Linked DNA regions of Homo sapiens: region 2 is linked to region 1. The links come from fine-mapping of genetic effects on plasma protein levels. A gene starts in region 1. The other region holds a variant in brackets. All regions are shown on one strand. Distances are from middle to middle.

Evidence for each region. PIP is the chance, under the fine-mapping model, that this variant and not a neighbour inherited with it causes the effect. Protein levels are from the aptamer-based SomaScan assay of Sun 2018.
Region 2: its variant is fine-mapped to the plasma level of the CX3CL1 protein (Sun 2018, PIP 0.95).

Annotation. Positions count from the first base shown.
Region 1 is chr16:57,368,616-57,377,399 of GRCh38, forward strand. CX3CL1 (C-X3-C motif chemokine ligand 1) reads left to right here and starts at 3,875. Exons shown (of 3, transcript NM_002996.6): 1 at 3,875-4,023. The coding sequence starts at 3,954.
Region 2 is chr16:57,405,426-57,413,425 of GRCh38, forward strand. The region is part of intron 1 of CCL17 (C-C motif chemokine ligand 17); the gene reads left to right. Among named protein-coding and RNA genes, the nearest start is that of CCL17, 4.7 kb to the left of the region's middle. The variant C/T (reference allele first, on the strand shown) is at 4,346.

The sequences.
Region 1 (8,784 bases):
TGTGGCGGCGTGCGCCTGTAGTCCCAGCTATATTTGGGAGGCTGAGGCAGGAGAATGGCGTGAACCCAGGAGGCAGAGCTTGCAGTGAGCCGGGACGGCGCCACTGCACTCCAGCCTGGGTGACAGAGCGAGATTCCGTCTCAAAAAATAAAATAAAATAAAATAAAATAAAAATAAATGAATAAAATAAAAAAGAAAGGGAGTGAGGGAGAGAAGAAAGGAGGCAGGAAGAAGGAAAGAGGGAGAGAGGAGAAACCACAAAATACATTTTGGGGACAATTGGAGAAATTTGGGTATGAACTGGGTGTTAGATGACATACAGGAATTATTGTTAATTTTGTTAGATGGGATAATGATATTACATGTATGTAAGACAATAGCTTTATTCTAAGGAGATGCATGCTGGAATATTTAGGGGAAAAGTGTCAAGCATCTATAATTTACTTTGTAATGGTTTGGCTAAAAAATAAAAATAAAAAAGATAAAACAAATATTAAAAAATGCTAATCATTGGTGGTAGAGGTTTTGTTTGTTTGTTTGTTTGTTTGTTTGAGGCAGAGTTTCTCTCTTGTTGCCCAGGCTGGAGTGCAGTGGTGCAATCTCGGCTCACCGCAACCTCTGCCTCCCGAGTTCAAGCAATTCTCTCCCAGCCTCCCAAGTAGCTGAGATTACAGGCACCCGCCACCACACTCAGCTAATTTTTTGTATTTTTAGTAGAGACGGGGTTTCACCATGTTGGCCAGGCTGGTCTCCAACTCCTGAGCTCTGGTGATCCACCCACCTCGGCCTCCCAAAGTGCTGGGATTATAGGCGTGAGCCACTGCGCCCAGCCATTGGTGGAGATTTGAAAGTCTTTGTACGATTCTTTCTTTTGTATTGTTGAATATTTTCCAAAACAGAAATTTTAAAGAGACAAAGCAAAATTCTGCCCATCTTCAGATGGAAAGATCATCTCTCTCACCCACCTTTCTTGTTTCCCCAACAAGCATGCAGTTCTCCCTTCCTGCCCGAGCCCACAGCCTCTAGCCCTCTGGTAGGGCTGGCAACTTCTCTCTCCTACTGAGCTACAGCTCCTGGGGGCAAGGACTTCAGCTCACTTGCCTTTGTGTCCCCCATCCCACCACATTGCCTGGCACACACCGGGCTCAATAACAGATACTAATGCCTCCTGCGTGCCAGGCACTGTGAAAGTCCTTAGTTTTATTCACTGTCGTGGTGGCTTGATGAGGTGGCTGTTTGCATCCCATTTTACATATAGGGAAGCTGAAATGCAGAGAGAGGTTAAGTCACTTGCCCAAGGGAACACCCCTTATCCGTGGTGGAGTCCTGCTGATGTATTTATTTATTTTTTTTCAGATAGGGTCCCACTCTGTGCCCAAGCTGGAGTGCAGTGGCATGATCATGGCTCAATGCAGCCTCAACCTCCCCAGGCTCACTTGATCCTTCCACTTTAGCCTCCTGAGCAGCTGGGACTGCAGGCACAGGCCACCACACTAATTTTCGTATATTTTTTGTAGGGAGGGGGTTTCACCATGTTTGTAGAGAGGGGGTTTTGCCAGGCTGGTCTCAGATTCCCGGGAATCTGCCTCTGCCTCCTGCCTCGGCCTCCCAAAGTGCTGGGATTACAGGTGTGAGCCACCACATCCGGCCTGGAGTCCTGTTTAGCCTTGGGTCTGGCTAGCCTGAAAGCCTGGTTATTGTGTCCAAATTAAATCTAAATTCAGTTCTTAACATCCTAATGAGATAGATGGGGGTGATCATTCCCATTTTATGGGAGTAGAAGCTGGACCTGGGGAGGGTAGAGGGTGTCCAAAGGGTCAAATGAGGAAAAGCAGAGCCGTGCTTTGCATTTTCGCTTCTATTTTATGCCAGGCTCTGTCCCGTACCCTATGGACATAAACTCACTTAGTCTTCACATTGGTCCTCGCAGTGAGGGTGGAGGCAGGTGGTGGACCCTACTGGTCTTGAGCTCAGACCTCAGAGCCAGCTGGCTGGGACGAATCCAGGATCCCTCATTTCCTGGCTGGTGAACCTAAGAAAATGTCTTTTTTTTTTTTTTTTTTTAGACAGAGTCTCACTCTGTCACCCAGGCTAGAGTGCAGTGGCGTGATCTTGGCTCACTGCAACCCTCTGCCTCCCAGGTTCAAGCGATTCTCCTGCCTCAGCCTCCCAAGTAGCTGGGATTACAGGTGTGCACCACACCCAGCTAATTTTTGTATTTTTAGTAGAGACGAGGTTTCACCGTGTTGGCCAGGCTGGCCTCGAACTCCTGACCTCAGGTGATCCACCCACCTCAGCCTCCCAAAGTGCTGGGATTACAGGCGTGAGCCATCGCACTCGGCCTCCTCCTCTGTTCTTACATGAACAGAGCAGAAAGAACACGACCTCAGTTTTTATCCCTCCTTGTCCCTCTCTGGGCCTCAGTTTCACCAGTTATAAAAAGAGGGATTGGACATTGGGAATGAGAAGGCTACTAGCTTCCCATGTGCACAGGCCAGGACAGATTCTCTGAGCATGAGTGGACCTTGGCTCCTGCCAAGGGTGTTCCGCTACTTCAAGAAGTATCTAGCCTCCTAACCCCTAACCCCATGCACCAGGCAGCCCATTGGGTTGGGTGGGGGGGCGGGGGGGGGTGGTTGAGGAGAGAGAGGTCCCTGGCCTTGGGATCTGTGGCCCCTCTGCCCAGCCCAACTGGCTCATAGCGTGGGATGCTGGCTCCACAACTGGTTTCCCTCAGATTGGCAGCCTGGAGACACCAGTACAGCTCAGTCCTATACCAAGGCAGAGCTGCTGACTCTTCTGGAGTCTCAGGGATTGTTGCCACTGCCTTTAGGGAAGGCTGCCATGAAGGCAGACTGTGTTCTAATGTGCTCCCAAGGCTGGCAAGCCTCTGCACCCTTCGGTGAGAGCCTGTTGGAGGGCCGGTGCTGGGAAGCCCTCTCCCCATTGCACTAGCCCAATGCTCTCTTTGGGCAGATAGAGAACTCAGGCCCCACGAGAGGCAAGCCTTATCCAAGCCACGGCTACAGAGTTGAGGAGCCAAGAGCCACAGAGTTATCGGGGATGGGTTGGCAGCCACCTTGTTCTTTGGGCTAACAGGGGCCAGAGCAGAGGTGGGAGTGGGTGCAAAGCAGGGAGCGGGAGACCGGGAGGTGGAGGCAGGGAGGCCAGGGCTCTCTCCTGGGTCCTGAGCTGTCCACATTCTGCTCATCATGGTGGTGGGAGGGGAGTTCTCCACTCTGATGCTGTGGATAACCTGGGGTGGCTCCGGGCCTCAGTTTCCCCATCTATCCATATGAAGTTGGACTCAATCCTTCTTTCAGCAGACCCTGCACCAAGCCCCTGCTGACTTCAGGCTCCCTGCTGGGCTCTGGAGATGCATAGATCAACAAGGTCCCCCAGGAGCTTGGGATTCTAAGAGGGGAAATTTAGGGGTCCATCCTGATGTGGGCGAGGCATTCTCTGGATCAAAGAAGAGCTTGTCAGACCCAGGATGGAGGGGCCCTGAGTCTCTCCCGGCCCCTTGGCGCCCCGCTCTCTATTCCACGGCCTGCTGGCCTTTTGTGTGTTGCCCACTTAGGATCAAGGGCCCCAGGCCAGATCCTAGGGCATGTTCCCAGCTTGTGGCAGGAGAGGAGGCCTTTGTACCCAGGCAGGCCCAGTCCAGCCTCCCGGGGAAGGTCCCAGTATGACAAGCCTAGGATGGTGAGAAGCCCAGGGACACAAAGCCGGCTTGGTTCCTTGGCAACATCCTGAGGAATCCAGCGGCTGCACACTGGCTCCCTTCCTCTCCCCTCCCACCCTCCTGCCTGCGGGGGCTGGAGGCGGAGGCAGCCAACCCCATTATAAAAAGCCACAGATCTCTGGCGGCGGCAAGGGGACAGCACTGAGCTCTGCCGCCTGGCTCTAGCCGCCTGCCTGGCCCCCGCCGGGACTCTTGCCCACCCTCAGCCATGGCTCCGATATCTCTGTCGTGGCTGCTCCGCTTGGCCACCTTCTGCCATCTGACTGTCCTGCTGGCTGGTAAGTGGGGCTTGACTTGGGCACAAACAGGGTAGGGAGCCCCCAGCCCCTTGTCTATCCCTCAAGCCTGACATCAGGGGCCCCAGACCCTGCCTGGGTAAAGCTCAAGGCCGGTGGCAGCCGCTTCCCCAGGGATGTGCGAGAGGGGGCTGGGCACCTCGCTTCCCCCAGATGCAGCGCTGGACAGATTTCCAGTTGCCAGCGACCGCCCTGCCTGGCCCAGCGAGCAAAGTGGCTGTGCCTGGAAGCACAGAGAGGTGGTGTGGGTGGCATAAGGGAGCCAGGTGTGGGTGTGCCAGGAGGGCGGGGGTGGAGAGAGCCTGCAGAAGCTCCTGCTGGGCACTGGGGTGGGAGGCCCTGGCTGACAGTGGCTGGCTCTTTCCATCAAGCGTTAATGTGTAACCCGCAGCCCTGGCCCTGGGCCAGGCCACAGTTGGGACTTTCTCCTGTCCTGTTTTCAAAGCCCCCAGGATTAGGGGGCCCAGGACCAGTGAAGGTCAAGGTCACTGCAGCTCATGGTTGGGGCTTGCCACTGCTGTGCTAGTCTATAGCCCCAGTTGCTCTGCCTGTGTCTACCCGTCATGCTGTCTTCCTCCTCCAAGCACAGTGTAGAAAATGCTTTTGCCTCTAGTCACTTGCTTACTGAAGCCCAGGACCTGGTAGGGGTACATAATTAACCATCCTACCTGATATGGATAAGATGGAGGCCCAGAGAGGTTTAGAAACTGGCCTGACAATGCACAGCCAGCAAGTAGGGCAGGAGAAGGTAAGACACATGGGACTGAATGCAGGAGAGAGCACAGATGCACACTCACCACCTCTGTGGGCCACATCACCTCCATGAACCGCTAGCCAGCCCCCTCCTCAGGGAGTGCCCCCACCATCTGGCAGGGTGACCTTCAGAGAAGGTGGGCACACAGCAAGTCTGGGAGAATGAGAAGTAGTCCCCACTGTCCAGATATTTCCATGGAGCAAACTCACCCTGGGGCAGGGAGCAGGTGTGTGGGTGGGTGGGCACGTGAGAGTGGTGGAGGCAAATTCCTGCTGGCTTCCTGCTGTCTGGGCTGGGGCCCTGAAGCCTGAGGTGTCTGCGGACAGTGAGATCTGGAAAGCAGGGAGTCAGATGGCGGCTGCTTTGCCACAGTCCTGTTATGTGACCGTGAGCAGGGTCTTGCCTCCTCTGGTCCCAGTTGCTGCATCTTTAAATATAGCTATTACCTCTCCGGTGGATTGGGGGAGGGTGACGAGGTTCCAATGCCTATGGAGGTGTTTTGAAGAGGGCGGAGGAGGAGGATTACTTTTACTAAGCTGAGAGAGGGAAGGGTCCTAGGCTAGGATGGAAAGGGGACACTGGGGGACCCTGGGTGCTCAGACTAGCAGCCTGAGGCTTTAGAACCAGGCTTCTGCCCTCATCTTGGTCATTGGCTTTACTGGAAGATCCTGGGCATTATTGGAACCTTTCTCAGCCTCACTTTCTCCTCCTGTAAAACTAGGCATTTGACCAGGCTCACCTTGGAAGTCCTCTCCCACGCTGACATGTATGGCTCTGAGAGGCCCTCGGGAGCCCCTGTAGGACAAGGGGGTGGTTTGGAAGCCAGAGAGACCCCGAGAGGAGGCTGGGGGGTTCGTAGCTGCTGCCCTGACTAGTGTGGGGCAGCTGCGTCAGTCCCCAAATGTGGGTTTGTGGGGCTGTGTCAGGCAGGAGGCTTCTGTACTTTATATAACAAACCTGCAGCTACGAGTCAGTGCAGAGCATTGCCCCCCCACTCCAAGAGCTGACGCATTCACTCCCACTCAAGTCCTGGCAAGAAAGAGAAAAAAAAACGAATCTGTTTTAAGCTCCTATAGCCTACCCGCCTCATTAGCAGTGGGGGTGGATGGGGAGGGCATGGGAGGATAAATTCAAGAGTGTCAGATCCAGGCCCCTGTCTAATTTAAATAAAAATTCCTCCATTTTTCTGTTGGTTAAGGTATTATGCCACAAAGCGCTTCCTTAGGCATTTTGTCCATTCATTCAACAAATAGTTATTGGACACCTACTGTGTGACAAACCTGGTTCTAGGTACTGGGGCGGCATCAATAAATAAAACAGCCAAGGACCTCAGCCCTCGAGGTGCTGTAATTCAACTGCAGAGGACACATAACACACAAAGTAAATCAGTAAACAATGTGGTCTGTTGGAAGGAGAAAAGGCACTGTGATAAAAAAATAGAGAGGGGTGGCTGGGCGCAGGGGCTCATGCCTGTAATCCCAGCACATTGGGAGGCCAAGGCGGGCAGATCACCTGACGTCAGGAGTTCAAGACCAGCCTGGCCAACATCATGAAACCCTGTCTCTACTAAAAATATAAAATTAGCTGGGTGTGGTGGTGCATGCCTGTAGTCCCAGCTACTTGGGAGGCTGAGGCAAGAGAATCGCTTGAACCTGGGAGGCAGAGGTTGGAGTGAGCCGAGATCGTGTCACTGCACTCCAGCCTGGGTGACAGAGTGAGAGTCCATTTAAAAAAAAAAAAAAGAAAGAAAAGAAAAGAAAAAGAAAAATAGAGAGGGGAGAAGAGAGGTGTTGACATTTTAAATAGGGGGTTAGGGAAGCCCACTGAGTAGGTGGCTTTGCACAGTTTGGAGCGGGGTGAGGGCGGGAGCCATGTGGATATCTCTAGAGCAATGGTCCTCAGTGAGTAATTTTGCTCCCCTATGGGCCATTTGGCAATTTCTAGAGAAATTTTTTACTTGTTACAAATATCCCAATGTTTTTGGTTCAGTTGAGCTACTCGCCTCTAGTGTGTAGAGGCCAGAGATGCTGCCAAACCTCCTATAGTACCCGGGACAGCCCCCAAAACAAAGAATTGTCTGGTCCAAAATGTCAGTAGTGTCACTGTTGAGAAACCTTGCCCTAAGGGAAAAATGCTCCAGAAGTTAAAAAATTCTTATTCTCACAACCACACTGTGAAGCAGGTATTGTCACATCCATTTTACAAGTAAGGAAACTGAGGCTCAGGGAGTCCGAGTGACTTGCTCAGGACACACAGCTGGGCAATGGCTCAAGCCCTCCCTTTATCACCTCATCCAGCAACCCAGGACATTTCCTGAGTCTCCTTCTAAGACCCTGGAAGACTCTTAGAAGTCCTTGAGGTCCAGCCTAAAGGAGAATTCCTCCAAGAAGCCTCCCCTGACCATTTGAAGTTGGAAGTGGTCTCTCCCTCATGTAAACCCCAATATGTTTGTGGTATGTTCTGGAACACTGTGTTTCTACCTGGCATCTAGGGTAGCCTAGAACAGTGGGGTGTTTAGGGGCTGAGTAGAAAACTAGCTCTGCCACCATGCAGCTGTGTGGCACTGGGCACATTTAGCCTCTCTTATTTCCAGCTTCTGCATCTGTAAAGTTGGGATAATACTCCCTTTGCAGGAATGTTGGGAATTAAAGAGAGCAGATGTGTACATGCTGGACACAGGGTCCAATACACAGTAGGTGTTCAATTAAAAAAAATAAATAAAACCTCTGATACTTTGTGTGCCTAATTTACCTGTCCATCAGGCTGGGAGCCTTCTGAGGCCAGAGGCATTCCTTGTTCATCTCACTGTACCTCACAGCACCCAGCACAGGGCCTGGCAAGAGGAACCAGCATTTGTTGGTTGACTGAATAAACAGAGTGATCTGATGGCATTTATTGGGATGGAAGCACTCTCTTCAAACTCAGCACCAGTGCCTATGGGAGAAAGAGCTCAAGGTTAAGGATAAGAGGGCCTGAGATTTTTGTATATACTCAAAAGTAATTCCAGCCAGTGTTGGCTGAATCAGGAAGTGGATGGATGGATGGATGGATGGATGGATGGATGGATGGATGGATGGATGGGTGGATAGATGGATGAATGGATGGATGGATGGATGGGTGGATGGATGGACAGATGGATGGATGGAAGAAGGGATGGGGAGGGGATGATGAGGGATGGATGAGTAGGTGAGATAAAAGGGGGCGGAAGATTGACAGGTGGTAGGTAGGGGAGAGGGAGTGGGTAGATGGATGAATGGAGATGAATAGGGGTTGGGCAGGAGGTGGCAGGTGGGCGAGGAATGGGTAGAAGATTGATAAGAGTGGGTGGACGGGTGGATGGATAGGTAGATAGATGCATTAAAGAGAGATAAGTAAACTGAGACTAATTTCATTCAATGAATATTGATTGAGTATCCACCTTGTGCTTGATGCTGGGAAACTATGATACCAAGACAGACAAGGTCCCTGCCTTCCTGACACTCCTATGACAGATAATATATGACTGGCTGGATGAGGCATTGTCTCCATTTACAGAAAGGAAAATTTCAGCTCTGAGAAGGGACAGGCTCCCCAGGTCAGTTAAACAATCTTCCTGGCAGAACCAAGAACTGAGCCGGGCCAGGACCATTCAGGGACCGTGGCAGAGGGTGGGGACTTTGGAGACAGGATGACTCTGTGGCTCTTTAAAGCCCTGGAGGTGGGCAATGGCTTTTCCCATCTTGGATTTGGGGAGCACAGAATGGACCTTCTTTCCTATCCATTGGGCAGCCTCCCTTGCCTCCTCCTGTCTCTGGTCACTCAGGGGCACCGTATTTTCTGGGGCTTCCCAAAGAAGACACCTGCAGGCCATTTTAGGGGACTGCCACCTGGCTCCACTCAATAGGGCCTGGGGAGGCTGCAGGTGAGTCAGTCTGAGGTTCCATTGCAGAAGGAGGGTGGCCAGCCCACACAGTGACTTTTATATCCTGGTTACTCAGAGAGAAAGGACA
Region 2 (8,000 bases), 36 kb after region 1:
GGGCAAAGTTTCAGACTTGGGGGCAGATGGGGAGATGGGAAACAATGCTGGCTTGAACAGAAAAAAAGGAGGCTGGTGTGAGAGGGAACTCGGTTTTGCCCTTCTGGTACCTGGGGCTGAGTGAACCATAGCAGGACAGACTTCTGCTTCCCAGCAGCTCACAGGTTAGTGTGGGGGACAGAACTGCACAGAGCTGGCCAGGCTGCAAGGCAGAGAGAGCTGAGGGGTGCCACAGAAAGATGGGCCGGAAGGAGGAGTGTCCAGGTGGGTGTGTCTGATTAGTTACTGGTCAGGGCTGGAGACAGAGATTTAAGAAGTATTTATCAGGCCAGGTGCGGTGGCTCACGCCTGTAATCCCAGCACTTTGGGAGGCCGAGGCAGGTGGATCACGAGATCAGGAGATCGAGACCATCCTGGCTAACACGGTGAAACCCCGTCTCTACTAAAAATACAAAAAAAAAAAAAAATTAGCCGGGCATGGTGGCGGGCGCCTGTAGTCCCAGCTACTTGGGAGGCTGAGGCAGGAGAATGGCGTGAACCCGGGAGGTGGAGCTTGCAGTAAGCCGAGATAGCGCTGCTGCAGTCCAGCCTGGGCGAAAGAGCAAGACTCCGTCTCAAAAAAAAAAAAGAAGTCTTTATCCAGAGGTAAAAGATCTGGGGTAGATGATGTCAGGGAGGAAGGGAAGGTTGCTTGAGGCAAAAACAAAGTCTAGGACAGAAGCCCAGGCTTGCTCCTGCCACCAGCTAGCTCTGTGCCCATGAAGCAGATTTATTTTGTTGTTGTTGAAATGGAATCTTGCTCTTTTGCCCAGGCTGGAGCGCAGTGCCACAGTCATGGCTCAGTCGTGCACCACCATGATTGGCTAATTTTCATTTTATTTTTTTTGTAGAGACAGAGTCTCACTATGTTGCCCAGGCTGGTCTCAGACTCCTGGGCTCAAGCGATCTTCCCACCTCAGCCTCCCAAAGTGCTGGGATTACAGTGGACCAGTTGCTTAAACTACTCTGGTCAGTTCCTAATTTTCTCATCTGTAGAAACTAATAGTTCTTACTCCCTGAAGCTGTTGTGAGGACAAAGTAAACTAATAGACTTAACTGCTGAGATTCCCCTGCCCCAACACCCACCCCAGCCTATAGTGAGAGCTCAGGGACATTTCTGAGAAGAGGAGCTCACAGGGAGCTCAGGGAAGAACCATGTCCCAAATCCCAGTGGGAGGAGCATCAAGAAGGATGGTAGGTTCCCAGGGATGACAAGGCGATTCCCTGAGCCAGCTGGAGACTAGGAACTTTATAGACTTCATCTCAGTTAGTTTTCCAGGTCATACCATGAGGGAGTGTCTTATCATCACACCCATTTCACAGATGAGAAAACTGAAGTTCATAAAATCGCTGTTAGTCACACAACCAGGAACAAGTAGAAGAGTGACTGGGACTCAGGGCTGTAGGTAATGATTCCAGAGCCTCTGCTGGTAATCACTGCCCAATGTAAGGCAGTGGGAGGTTCAGGGAGTGGCTGGAGGGGATCAAGAGGCTCAGTGAGAGCACCTTTCCTAGAGCATCAGAGCTGGAAGCCACATTGCTGAGGATTAATTAAATCACAAGTGGGCAGAGAGGAAATGGTAGAGGGAAGTACAGACCACACATCGGAGCAGTTTGGTCATGAATGAAAGGAGAAATGGGAGGGCAGCATGCGAGGGTGTTGAAGTCAAGGGGAGGTCTTTATGGAAGTGGAGAGACAGGATCATGTTGTCAGCAGAGGGAAAGGGGGTCATGGGATTGGAGACAGTAAAGAGCTAGAAGATGGCAGTGCAACTGAGGGAAGGAGGCCCCTCTGGGATGAATAAAGGTTGAGATCCAAGCCACAGTTGAAGCAATATAGGTTTGGCAAAAAATGGCCACAACCACAAGGAAGTTGTAAACTAGATGGGGGAGGAGTCAGGGTGTCCTTGGTTAGATTCCTCTGCTTTATCCATGACAGAAGGATTCGGGTGTGTCTCATGAAATGATGGTACACACTGGTTTAAAAACTATTTGGATGAAGGAGGCCCTGGGATAGAATGTGAGTTGGGCCCATGTTGTAGTTCAGAATCTCTAAGTGACCATCCATCTATCCATGCATTCATGCATGTATATATCCATTCATCATCTATCAAGCCATGCACCCATACTTCTATTCATCCATCCAACCACACATCCATCTATCTAGCCATACATCTACACATACACCCACCCATCCATCAGTCCATCCATCTGCTCACCCATCCAGTTTCATGCATCCATCCATCATCCATCAACCCATTCATCCATCCTTCCATCCATCCATCATCCATCCATCCATCCATCCACCCATTCATTCATCCATTCATGTATCCATCCATTCATCCATCCGTCTGTCCATCCATTCATTCATTCATCTACCCATCCATCCATTTATTCTTTTACCATCCATCTACACATCCATCTACCCATCCGTTCATCCATTCATCTACCCATCCATCTATCTATTTATTCTCTCACCATCCGTCCACACATCCATCTACCATCCATCCATCTATCCATCCATTCTTCCATCCATCCCTCCATCCATCCATCTACCCATCCATCCATCTATTTATTCTTTTGCCATCCATCCACACATCCATCTACCATCCATCCATCTACCCATCCATTTATCCATTCATCTACCCATCCATCTATCCATCCATTCATCTACCCATCCATCTATCTATTTATCCTTTCACCATCCATCCACCAATCCATCTATCCATCATCCATACACACATCCACCCATCCATTTATCTACCATCCATCCATCCGTCCATTCTTTCATCCACCTTCCAGCCACTCATCCATTCATCACTCACCCACACGTCCATCCATCATCCATCCTCCATCCATCCATTCACTCATTTACCCATCCATATCCATTCACCCATTCATTCATTCACCCATCCATACAACCACTCACCTATTTATACATTCAGTAAACATATATATATTTTTTGAGACAGGGTCTCACTCTGTCGCCCAGGCTGGAGTGCAGTGGTACAATCATGGCTCACTGCAGCCTCAACTTTCCTGATGTAGGTGATCCTCCCTACTCGGCCTCCAGAGTAGCTGGGACAGGTGCACACTGTAACACCTGGCTATTTTTTTTTTTCGAGATGGAGTCTCACTATATTGCCCAGGAGGGAGTGCAGTGGTGTGATCTCGGCTCACTGCAATCTCCACCTCCCGGGTTCAAGCGATTCTCCTGCCTCAGCCTCCCGAGCAGCTGGGATTACAGGCACACGCCACCACACCCAGCTAATTTTTTTTTTTTGTATTTTTAGTAGAGACAGGGTTTCACCATGTTGGCCAGGATGGTCTCGATCTCCTGACCTTGTGATCCGCCTGCCTCAGCCTCCCAAAGTGCTGGGATTACAGATGTGAGCCACTGCGCCTGGTCATTTTTTTGCATTTTTTGTAGAGACAGGGTTTCACCATGTTGCCCAGGCTTGTCTTGAACTCCTGGGCTCAAGTGATCCACCTGCCTCTGCCTCCGAAAGTATTGGAATTACAGGTGTGAGCCACCAAACTGGCCTAATAAACATATTTTATTGAGCACCCACTAAGGTGCTAAGTCCTGGAGGGATAAGTTGGAACACAAAAGAGATCCTTCAAGGATTTTACAGTCTTTTGTGTGAGTCCCAACAAATAAACTAGCAATCACAATACAATATGAAGACAGCCAAGATGAGGGAAGTCAGTGAACTCTGGGGACATAGAGGAAGGAAGGAGTAAGGGTTCAAGCTGCACTCTAAAATAAGAGTAGGAGTGAAAGGAAGTGAGACGGGGGAACAGGAAAGAATGTTCCAGACAGGAAGAACAGCTTGTACGAAGGCTTGGGCATCAGTAAAGGCCCGGCATTTTCAAGGAACTGAAAGAAGGTCCATGTGGCTGGGACAAAATGATATAGTGGGTGATGGAGCTGGAGGAAAAAGTTGAGCCTGGAGAAGTAGGCAGAAATGTGGGCTTCGTCCTGAGAGTAACGGGGAGGCATTGAAGGATTTCAAGAGGGGAGAGCCTTGCTCAGACTTGTGTTTTGGAGATCAATGGGCTTTTGAGAGGAAGATGGACTGGACCAGGAAGGCCTGGAAGCTGGGGCATGAGTTCACGGCTGTGGTCCAGCAGAGAGATGGAGGAGGAGAAGGAGACGGATTCAGGACGCATGCAGGTAGCCAACTAACACACTTCGCTGATGGACTGGATGTGGGCAGTGAGGAAGAGCCCAGGGACAGAGATGACCCTTGGGTTTCTGACCTGAGGAACCAAGAGGACACCCTGTCAGGAACGACAGACACAT[C/T]AATGGGCACGTCAAGTCTTTGGGACAGGGGATTGGGGCCTATTTTGGGGTCAGGGGTGGAAATACTATTTGGGACCCTCACATCTCAGCTGAGCTGGCCCCGATCCCTGATTCCCAGCCCCCTGGGCAGGGCAGGATGAATCCAGTTTCAGCTGTCAGCGATGGAGATGAGTAAACAAATGCTCAATCCTTACTGAGCTGCTCCGGGAGACCTCGGGCAAGTCACTGCCCTGATGAGCCTCAGGTGACACTGGTGTGACCGGGATGACACTTCTGCCTAGCTGCCCCCTCCTGGTCAGCCACAGCTGTCAAATGCAACTGAAGATGATGAAGAGCTGCCGCCCCAGCCGCTTGGCTGCCCTGTGACTGAGAGCATCCTGGTTCCGCCCACTGCCTCGGGGACAGGCTTCTCCACGAGCCTGGGCAGAGCCTGGGGTTGGGGCAGGAACCTTCCTTCCCTGTCTTTCAGGGAGAAGGACCCCATATCTGCCTGGCCCAGTGCCCTCTGGCTAAAGCCGAGTTGGGTGTTGCAGCAGCCCCTGGGGCAAGGGCGGCAGGTGCCTGGGTGGTGTGCCTGGCCACTTTAGTCAGAGGCGTTGAGACAAGGAGTTACCACAGCCGCTCCTCCCACTCAGATCCAATTACCCTTCACACTCTCCTAATAGGCCTAACAGTGTCTGGCCTGCTTCCCTGCCATGGCCCTTTCCCTTCCTTTGGCCACAGCACTCTCTCCCCTGCTGCCCCTCCACAAAGCTCTGCCTCACTGCCACTTCCTCCAGGGAGCATTCCTGATTGCCCTGACAGACCTCCAGGTCCTAGAATCCTCACAGCAGCATAAAGATCTCTCAAGATGCTTCTCACAGGCCCAGACTTCAGAATAGTTTGTCTGGAAGTTCCCTTGGCATCCATCCCATAGCCTGGGAGAACTGAGGAGGGATAAACTCGGTTAATCCCTGGAGAGGAAACCACCTCAAAAATGTCCCTGGTCCCCGCTGCCTCCCAAAGAAGACTGAGGCACACTGGGCCCTTTGCATCCATCTCGCCTTCCCTTCCTTCAGTCCTGTGTTTACTCGGTCAGGTGACACTGAAGGTTCACTGCATGCCAGGCACCATGCTTGGTGCTGGGGATGCCCACGGCGCGGGGCAAGGTAGACACAGCCAGTCCTCGTGTGACTGGCTCTTAGCCTTGCATTTAGGCAGTGCCCCATGCCGGGGTTTCATGCTGTTGCCCTAATTTATCTCTGCACATTCCCCTCTCTGCACCTTTGCCTAAACAGTGCCCCCTGTGCAATGTCCTTTCTTCCAATCTCAGTATGAATCTTATCTACAAAACCTAGCCCTAGGCCCTACAGCCACCTCTTTCAGGCAGCCTTCCACGAATTCTGGCCAGAGGCAGCATCTCCCCAGTCTATGCCCCAAAGCCCTTTAATCTCACCTGCATGTCCCTATGAGGGGTCAGGGCCTGTTCCCCCGCCCTTACCCACTGTGAAACCCCACAACAGCAGGGTCGGGCCTCTGTCCGCCCTGCAGCCCTGGGCACAGCCCCCAGAGGCTCAGCTGCCCCTGCCAGCCAGGCAGCCTGCACCAGCCTTGAACTGAACCAGAACCTTCCTAGTCCAGAACCTTCCACTGCTGCTTTCATGATTTGTTCCCCAGAACAAACAGGGGAATTTGGGTCCTTCTGAAGAAAGCTTTGAGTCTGCAGGAAAGCGAAGAGGACTCAGAACCCACCGGGGAGTTTCCCCAGTGGCCGGGACTGCAGCTGCTTCATCATTAATCAGGCTGCTCACTTGTTATTAATCAGCTGTCCCTTGCAGTTGTGTAGCACAGAAGAGCAATTGGTGGCCTCTGCGGCAAGTGGAGCCCCCACAAGAGGGCAGGCAGAAGCCACAGGGCAGAGTGCATGGAGGGCAGCTAGGGAGGGAGGGGTGGTCGGCGGAGGCGCCCCTTCCTGCCTCTTCCGAGGACCCAGGCCTGGTCCTGCACCTCTGGGCTCAGGCTCTGTCTCCAGGTCAGGGCTGCCCTGTGCCTGCACACCTTCCCCTGCCCAGCGCGGCCTCCTTTGCAGGGGGACTCTGCGGGGAGCTACTCTGAGGCTGCCCCTCCCTTTCTCTGGGATGTTGGCACCAAAGAGGTGCCCAGGCAGGAAGAGCAGCCTCCCCTCCCCCTCCTCTGCACGTGCAAATGGAAGACAGCCCTGGGCACAGGAGGGGTGGCTGGGGGCAAAGAACCCATCTGGACTGTGGCTTGAGGAGGGGGCAGGGTCAGGGTCTCTGGCAGCTGATGGGACCCCCAGAGAAGCAGAGGAATGTTGGTGCGAGGCCCACCAAGGGGGACCCCATCTTCCTGAGATCTACCGTTTTGGCAGAGCTCTGTGGGACAGACCAAACTTCCCTCTACAGGTGATGAGATTGAGGTCCAGAGAGGGTCTGTGAGCCGCCGGAGGTCATATAGAGGATGCTGCCCACAGAAAGATTCTGCCATGGGCAGGGAAGCCCCACTCCCAGGTGCGGAAGCAGCCACAGGCTCCCAGGCAGCCCTTGCTGAGGGGTGGGGAGAGGAGCGCCTGAGGCTCCTCCGAAGTCGAGGGTCTTTGTCTGGTTTCCTCTCATAGGATCCCTGCCCTTCTACCTAAGGACTGATGAGGTTAGCTCTGAGCGATGCTCCAGTAGTGTGGGGTTTCCACAGGTATCCCCAGAATCTAAAAACAAGAAACAAAAATCTCATGACAAATAGCGGCTGTTGCAGTTATCATGACAGTTAGTGAAAAACTTAGTAATGATTTAGTGATTAACACAGGGTGGACTGTGAGAGGGTGGAAGCCACCTGCGCCATGTTTTGGAGGGGCAGTGCTGTCATTTTGAGTTGGCCCTGGTCATGCAAGGACAGGATGAAGCCAGGCCAAGGTCCCCCATGTCACAATCAGAGTCCAGGTGCTGCCCTGCCTGGAGCTGCCCTTCCCTGGTGCTGCCCACCTGAAGGCCATGGGACTCTCATCCTACTGTAGGGACGCCCATGCTGTGGCTCCCGGGAGCCCCAACAGGGCGACCGGCAATTTCCTCGGGTGGCCAGGGGACTGACCCGCATGCAGTGATGCTGTGGCCTGGGGCTGAGACGCTAGAGTCACAGAGAAGCCAGTTCACCAACTTTATCAACCTCATTATTGCAATTCTTGTTTTATTCCTGCCCCCACTGGAAAGTGGACTTACGTTCTGTCATCTGCCATGCCATGAGCTGGGGTGCCTGGAAAGTCAGCTCAGGGCCTGGCTCAGGCTGGACCCTGACCAGGCGTCCAGTACTGACTCCGGGACACAGCTCTGCTAGAAGTGAGAAGCAGCATCTCCCACTGACCCCTTCGTTTTGTTCTGTATCTTAGTGTAAGGCATCCCATTTAGGGGAACGTGGTTTCCTGAGCTATTTGGACTGAATCGAAGCACCGTTGGGCTCTTGCCTCCTGTGGTCAGGGCCTCACCTGGGATGGGACACCAACCAAAGCTGCTCTGTGCCCTGGCTGGGCCTCAGCCTCTCGGAGGCAGATAAAGCATGGATCTCCCTGCAGAGTGATGCCCATGTGCCCATGCCCGGCAGCCAGGGTGGCCCTGGCAGCACCCTGAAGCTCACTCATGGTCCAGGAGCCCATGGGCCCATGCCCGGC